2 separate regions of the Homo sapiens genome follow, and region 1 is reported to be linked to region 2. Evidence: microRNA targets listed by miRTarBase, many of them from high-throughput screens and not tested one by one. Region 2 holds a microRNA gene; the other region holds the end of a gene's coding sequence.

Evidence for each region. Region 2 holds the annotated microRNA hsa-miR-4684-5p (CUCUCUACUGACUUGCAACAUA, at 1,058-1,079, opposite strand). A microRNA usually pairs through its seed, bases 2 to 8, with sites in the 3' UTR of a target mRNA and lowers its output. Matches are read on the target gene's strand: a 7mer-m8 pairs with bases 2 to 8, a 7mer-A1 pairs with bases 2 to 7 and ends in A, and an 8mer does both.
Region 1: the mRNA of DNAJC24 is a reported target of hsa-miR-4684-5p. Seed matches in the 3' UTR shown: 7mer-A1 at 3,478-3,484 and 7mer-m8 at 2,830-2,836.

The regions. Positions count from the first base shown.
Region 1 is chr11:31,430,037-31,434,036 of GRCh38, reverse strand. It overlaps DNAJC24 (DnaJ heat shock protein family (Hsp40) member C24), which reads right to left. Exons shown (of 5, transcript NM_181706.5): 5 at 1,202-3,766. The coding sequence ends at 3,636. IMMP1L (inner mitochondrial membrane peptidase subunit 1) reads left to right here. Exons shown (of 6, transcript NM_001304274.2): 5 at 467-577; 6 at 1,469-1,636. The coding sequence ends at 1,537. Among named protein-coding and RNA genes, the nearest start is that of DNAJC24, 62 kb to the right of the region's middle.
Region 2 is chr1:22,716,609-22,720,608 of GRCh38, reverse strand. It overlaps MIR4684 (microRNA 4684), which reads right to left and starts at 1,092; the gene lies at 1,011-1,092. The region is part of intron 1 of EPHB2 (EPH receptor B2); the gene reads right to left. RefSeq lists an enhancer at 2,756-3,445.

The sequences.
Region 1 (4,000 bases), not on the chromosome of region 2:
TCAATTACCATTTAGTTCATCATGAGCATTCTAATAGGTTTGGCTTTGGTATTGGCCCCAGGATGTTGCTGAGTGAGTGGCTGCCCTGCTTATACTGTTATTGAGACACAAGGGCGCATTTTCAGTCAGCATCCTAATGACCTCTTTTGAAGTCTATTAAATTAATGACCCTGTCACACTATTTTGATCTCTTATAACCTCAGTTTGGGGTTTGTATAACAAATTAATATTTGGGAACCATATGACAAAAAAAGATGATAGGTTTTTAAAAAAGTTGAAACCTTTGATATTTAGTAAAAGTTATTGTGCAAGAAATAAAAGCAAAAATGCAATATTAGGATTTGTATCTATTCTATAAAAGAGAGCCTTAGGACATTTCTCCCTACCTCTGAATGACATGCTTTTTAATTATAGTACCCAAATTAGGTTTTATCTTTAAGAGGCTGCATTTCTTCTCTAATTCTAGGTGCCAATGGGTCATGTTTGGTTAGAAGGTGACAATCTACAGAATTCTACAGATTCCAGGTGCTATGGACCTATTCCATATGGACTAATAAGAGGACGAATCTTCTTTAAGGTACCATTTTCTGCTTAAAATGTAAGGTTTATTTTCTGAGCTAGAAAAAGTTTCTCTCAAAATGATCTCTGAAATCTTCAAGCTGTCAGTGTACTTAACTGTTGCACCGAATATATTTTTTGAACCTGTTGGCCTTAACTTAATAGCCATATGCAAACCTATTCCCCCATTGCCCCTGCTCCCATAGAGATAATAATAAAATCCAAACTACCTTAGCTATAGCCTAAGAAAACTTTAATTTGAATTTCCAAAAGTTCAGTTCTCTCTTGTACAACTCTTAAAACCATGTTCACATCCTGCCCAGGGCATATTTTAATAAGCATGTGCAGAAGAACAGTCTAGATTCAAACTACCTGTAAAGTAGGGATACCCCAGTTGAGTACTGTGAGTCACAGACTTATTGTGAATGTATGATTATTAGGGAAGATTGTTTTCACTGGCCCCTCCTTTTTATCACAATCAGTGAGGAGAAAAACATTCATGAATACATGGAGCTGTTGGATAATTTACAGGATTCTTTACATTTAAAACAGATGCCATATTCAAGTACTTAAACCTAAGCCCCTTTGGTTGAAAGTACACAGTTAACTCTTACTTGCAAGTAGTAAAAGAAAACACAGACCATATATTCATACATATTTATTCACACACCACACACATATAATTTCATGTACATTGTTTGAATGTCCCAAACTTTGGAGTTTAAACATATATACACATAAGTTTATTTTCTCAAGTCTTACTTTGATGTAGAAAATTTTATTCTTGATTGATGAGTAAGGAGAAAGTGTTTATCTGGCATAGAGAAAAGGGACAGATAGCAAAAGGGAATATGATGATACTATAACATTACTTTCACTAATTGTCTTCAACCTCATTTTGATTTTACAGATTTGGCCTCTGAGTGATTTTGGATTTTTACGTGCCAGCCCTAATGGCCACAGATTTTCTGATGATTAGTAAGCATTTATTCTTTTGACTTGATTATTGTCTCCTTTTCATGTGAATTTATTACTCCCGTTGAAACCGTGTACTTACCAATAAACTATTTGCTATTCAGTTTTAGTTGTTTTTAATTGTTAAATGTAAAGAATATTCAACACACATTCTGCCAAGTTCTGTTAGTTCAAAATATATGGATAAAAATGTAACCCAAAAAAGTCATCTAAATTTTATGATACAAAAATATTGTGGGAGGGGGAACCTGGATGACTACCTCACTTTTGAATTCTTGTTCTTATAGGTATAATGAAACTAATCTATTCTTCTTAAATATACCTCATACTTTAGCAGCTACATTTACAAGTCAGAGTAGTAACTATTCGTATTTATAAGTTCAACCTGACAATGCCAGGTTTGATAAAAAGCTGCTAGTCTACATGCTCAGCCCACTCATTTGAAATTAAGTAAAAATGTTTCTAAAGGATCCCTTAAAGTTCTTTAAATGAGTTCTGACTTTTACTGTACACAAAATATTAAATACATAGAAAAATGCATCTTTAAGGCATATGCCATCTGTAGTTGGCTATAGTCAATAATACTTTATAAAAGTTCATTTCAGCATAGCAGCAGTGCAATGGCCCTGTCTTCATAAATACAGGCATTAATACTATATCTTTTTTTATTTATTTTATTTTATTTTTTTTGAGACAGAGTCTTGCTCTCTGTAGCCCAGGCTGCAGTGCAGTGGCACAACCTCGGCTCACTCTGCCTCCTGGGTTCAAGTGATTCTTGTGCCTCAGCCTCCCGAGTAGCTGGGACCACAGGCAGACACCAACGTGACTGGCTAATTTTTAAAAAAATTATTTTTAGTAGATATGGGGTTTCACCATGTTGGCCAGGGTGGTCTTGAACTCCTGACCAAAGGTGATCCGCCTGCCTTAGTCTCCCAAAGTGCTGGGATTACAGATGTGAGCCACCATGCCTGGCCCCAATATTATATCAACACTCCAAAATAAAAGGGGAAATAATGCACCAACTTCCAAGTCATTATTTTTAAAAAAGCTTCTGGCCAGGCATGGTGGCTCACGCCTGCAATCCCAGCACTTTGGGAGGTTGAGGTGGGCGGATCATTTGAGGCCAGGAGTTCAAGACCAGCCTAGCCAACATGATGAAATCCCATCTCTATTAACAAAACTTAGGCCAGGCACGGTGGCTCAAACCTGTAATCCTAGCACTTTGGGAGGTCGAGGCAGGTGGATCACCTGAGGTCAGGAGTTTGAGACCAGCCTGGCCAACATGGTGGAACCCCATCTCTACTAAAAATACAAAAATTAGCTGGGCATGGTGGTGGGCACGTGTAATCCCAGCTATTCGGGAGGCTGAGGCTGGAGAATCACTTGAACCCAGGAGACGGAGGTTACAGCGACCTGAGATCATGGCACTGCACTCCAGCTGGCGCGACAGAGTGAGACTCTGTCTTAGAAAAAAGAAATTAAAATTAAAAGCTTCCATTTCCTAAATTACATTTAAATTTGAAGATGGCAGTGTTTACAAGCTTTGGAAATACGGACCAAGATTGGAGGCAACACTTTCTACAGTTGCCACTTTGTCTTTATTAACTTTGAAATAACCTTATGAATATCCATAACCAGCCTTCCTTATGGAAGAACTGGCCTCACATTATTCACAAAGATTCTAGGTGTACAACAGCCCCATAACTTTAGCAACTAGAAACGTTATCGGTTAGACCAGAAACTTAGTAACTATAAAGGAATATGATGATACTGTTACCCACTGAAAAGAGGAGACATGCTCATATTAAGAAAATTCTTATTTTGTGTCATGGAAAAAAATGACATAATAAAGTTCTCAGATGGGAATTCACCAAATATAATCAAATCTATTTTTGTGACAACTTGTAAATATAAATTATAAATACAAATAAATAATTATATTCATTCTCTATTAATCTGAGGTGGTCTCTGCTTGATAATTGTATATTTTCTTTGCAAATAATCGGGCTGACAAATAATCCATTTCCTTGAATGGACAAAGCTCAACGGCTTCTCATCATGTCTCAATACCACAGTTAAAGCATTTCAAGTTGTGAACAATTTTAGTTATAATGAAGGAGTTCTATAATTAGTGAACATGTATCACAAGAAATCAGGCTAACTTCTTCCGCTTCATCCTTGGAAACACTGTATTTTCCACCACATCTGCAACTCAGATAAAAAGAGTGATCACCTGCAAAAGAAAACAAAATAATCTTTCAAAGACTTGTAAGTAACTACCTCACTAATACCCTTAAAAGGTGCAGAGTTTATTCCATAGGAATTGTAAAACAAAACAAAGAAGCTCAGTAAAGATAAAATGTATTTAAAGGAGAACTGGATTTCTTGAAAGGGGCAGTGTTTCTAAAAATTATCTACCAAAGAATCTTTCTCTGTAGAGGAGATGGGTTGAAGCTATGAATTAAAA
Region 2 (4,000 bases):
GATAAACTACCTGTGAGAGGCTGTCTCCAAATATGGCTGCCAACAATTCCTCCCCCTACTAAACACGAAGCCACTCCTCCCAGTAAGGGGGCGTCTAGATTCAAGTTTGGACCACAGGTTGGCCCAAGAAACATGGACAACAACAGGGTGCAGGGGCGGGCACTGAACTCTGAGTGTCACCTGATTCAGTGGGTCAGGACATGTTGAGTGGGACGCTGGATAACCCACCATTAAATTTTCCATGCTGAACAGCTGAGCAAGAAATGGGACTTCTCTTCAAGGATAAAACAAAAAAATCAAGCCCAGTATATTTTCCTTTTCCTTGAACCTGATGAGGAAGCCTGGGATGAATCTGAGCTGGTGTTGTGACTGGCTTTGACCACCACAGAAGGCTGCAGGGGTGACACTTTGTGACATTAGAGCCCAGCCCTTAAGAAGCCTTGCAGTTTCCATTTCACCATCTTGGGAGCTAATTGCCATGGATAGAGGCGCAGTCTAGACTAGCAAAGGATGGGAGATAGCGAGGAGCGTAGGGGGACCAGCCTTCCAGCCTTCTCTATGAGGGCCTCAAAGATGTATGTGAAGCCACGATGGAATTTCCAGCCCAACCTAGCTGAGTGCAGCCTCCTGAGTGATCCCAACTGACAACCCGGGGAACAGAATAAGCACCCAGCTGAGCCCAGCCAATCCACTGAATCAGGACAACTAAGAAATCATTATTGTTTTAAGCCAGTAGGTTTTGTGGTGGCTTGCTAAAGATAAGTGATATGCTTTTCAGGAGTGGAGTCCTGTACTTTTTGTAGCTCTCCCTTCCCTTGCCTGAACCCCTGAACCCTGGCAATGGGCACTGAATCCTGGAGCTGGAAGAGGCCTCCAAAATCACTGAGTCTCACCCCTGTCATTTTATAGAAGAGAGAGCTGAGGCTCGGGAAGCCATGCAATTGACTCCAGGTCACACAGGGTAACAGGGGCAGATCCAGGAGGCAAACTCAAGCCCTTACAGGGGTTGAGCACCAAGGGTACGTCTCCACCGACTTGCAACACACCAAGACAAATGTATGTTGCAAGTCAGTAGAGAGGTACCCCTGGTGCTCACACATTCTGTCTTAAGAGGCAGTCACTCCAGCCAACTGTGGCCATGTGGGAATGTGGGCCCTGTGAAACCAGATTGTCTGACTTTTCAGAAACGCCAGAAACAGGACTTTTCTGTAAAATCTCTTGATTTTCAAATGTTGGCTAAGAATTTGAACTGGATAGATGAGCTATTAAGATTGGCCCTGGGCTTCAAGCTTGGTCCCGCTGCTGGCTTTGGGCGAGTCATATTATCTCCCAGACCTCAGTTTCCTCATCTCTAAAGTGGGCCCCGTGGCTCCTGCCCCTTTCAGGATGGCTGTGAAGGCCTGATGAGCTATTGTATTTGGAAGTACAAGCTGCAAATGGCCCTGTGACTGTTTCGTAGTCTCCATTCTCTGTGGAGGCGCCCCTTACAACATAATGAGTTAACACCCGATTTGTCTAAGTTAGAACAACATTATTCTGACCATTATCACAGAGATTGCATTTTTATGGCAGGTTTGTGAGTTGTAGAACCCTCCCATTGCATTATCTCAGGATGTTGATGGAGCTGGAAGCTGGACAGCTGCCTTAGAGACCCTCATCAGAGCCAAGCCTTTCCTCTGAGCAGGGAGGCACATTCTAGAAGTGGAGAAGAGCATGAGCTCTGGAGTCACCAGACTTGGGTTTCAATCGCTGCCTCACCACTCCCTAGGTGTCCTTGGGCCAGTCACTCCTCTCAGAGCTTTGGTTTTCTCATCTGTAAAATGGGCACAATAATACAACGACCTGTGGGGCTCTTGGGGCAACTGCACAAGGCAACACACATAATGCTGTTAGTACAATGTCTGGCACAAGAATTGACAGCTGCTGGGCGCGGTGGCTCACACCTGTAATCCCAGCACTTTGGGAGGCCGAGGCAGGTGGATCGCCTGAGGTCAGAGTTCGAGACCAGCCTGACCAACATAGTGAAACCCCATCTCTACTAAAATATACAAAAAATTAGCCGGGCATGGTGGCAGGCATCTGTAATCCCAGCTACTCAGGGAGGCTGAGGCAGGAAAATCTCTTGAACCCGGGAGGCAGAGGTTGCAGTGAGCCGAGATTGCACCACTGCAGTCCAGCCTGGGCAACAAGAGCAATACTCTGTCTCAAAAAAAAAAAAAAAAAAAAAAAGAATTGACAGCCATTCCCATGATCATGGCAGGGAAGGTGGTGCCTGGCAGGCACTGGGCAAAGAAGGAGGGTACAGCCATGAAGGAGTCTACCCCTTTCCCAGATTAGGGAGGCTGAATTGGAGTGGGGAGGGGGCCTTTGAGAAAACCTGGATGGTACCCTGAGTGGGCAGGCTGGAGGGGCCTCTCAGCTACTTGGCAAGCCAGTCAGACCCTTGCCCTGTAAGGCTCAGAACACAGTGGGTGGGGGAGAGCTGGAGATGAAAAACCTGGTACACTGGCCCCCTGTTCCCCTACTGTGAATTGAGCTTCCCATTGGTAGAAAGCAAGGATAGCAACCGTTCACATTTATTGCAAGCTTAGCACACCTGAGGCACACACTCAGCTTAGTCTTCCTCAGATTAACACATCCATTGCTCACAACCATCTCAAGAGCTAGGAACAATGATTACCCCCATTTGAAAGATGAGGAAACCAAGGCTCAGAGAGGTGAAAACACAAGCCAGAGGACACACAGTACGGAGCAGTCTGACTCCACACACATTTCCTGTAACCCCCAGGCTCTGCTGTTTATAGAACAGGAGAGAAAGTGATCAGGGCTAAGCAAAGCCTCTGTAGGACTTCAGAGAAAGGGACAAGTCATTCTGGCCAGGGGCACGAGGGTGCTGCTGACATTTAATGGTTACGGAAACTAATAAAGAATGGACACAGCTGAGTGCCAGGCAGTTCTGCCAGTCATGGTACACAGCATCTCACTGAATCCTCGCCATGAGCCTCTGACACATGCGCGGTATTCTCCAGTTTCCAGATGAGGAAGCTGAGGCTCAGAGAGTGGATCACTTGGTCAAGGCCACACAGCAGGCAAGGTCCCCTCTTCTGAGGACACTCCCACCCCACAGGGGCTGCAGCAGGGGGGCAGATGGCTCCAGGAAGCTCACCTAGTGAGGGTGTCCTAGGCAAGCCCCCAGATGACACGGGGGTACTGGGGAGACAGGTGTCCCCCTCCTGCACCCTCCGGAAGGCAGCTGCTTTAAAAGGCCCTAAAATGCTTTCAAGGCAGCCTTATCAGAAGGCCTGAGCTGATCCCAATCAGGGAGCCTCCAGGTGCTGCCACAATCAACAACTGCCTGGCCTGCTGCCCCACCCCTGGGAGCTGTGCAAACATTCTTTCCTTCCCTGCCTTCCCCCAGCTAACCCTCTTTTTATGCACGAGCCAGCGGCAGCCAGGGCTGGTGGGCGCTAACTCTGATTGATTTCACTTCATTTCAGTCTTTTCCAGTTTCCTGCTGAGGTTTCTCTTCCTCTTTCCCAGGAGTCCTGTGTTTTATCATAGGCCGCTGGGGGGCAAATTTGCCTGCCTAATGGAAAGACCTGGAGAGTATGTTAAAAATACAGACTCCCCAACCTTGTTCCCCATCTCCCAGATCTCCAGCTAAGTCAGGCATGCAGGTGCCAGGTCAGGAGACGGGTCCTTGGTCGGAGGTGTGGAAGATCCTCCCGTCAGGAGGCCCACCGTGCTCTGCATCTCCGCCACCCTCAGTGGGAGCATGGGTCCCCTGCCTTGCCCAGCCCAGGCATCCTGTCACCAGCAGGCTCCATCTGCCCCTTCCTGTTAGGGGCCTTTCTATGTGCAGAGGTCCAGTCTCCAGTCTAAACTCACAGGTGAGCTCTGGGCAGGCAGAGTTGACCAGAGGCTACCACGGGCTGAATGCCCAGCAAACTGGCCCATAGAATCTGTCCCAGGCAGGGCACAGTGGCTCAGGCCTGTAATC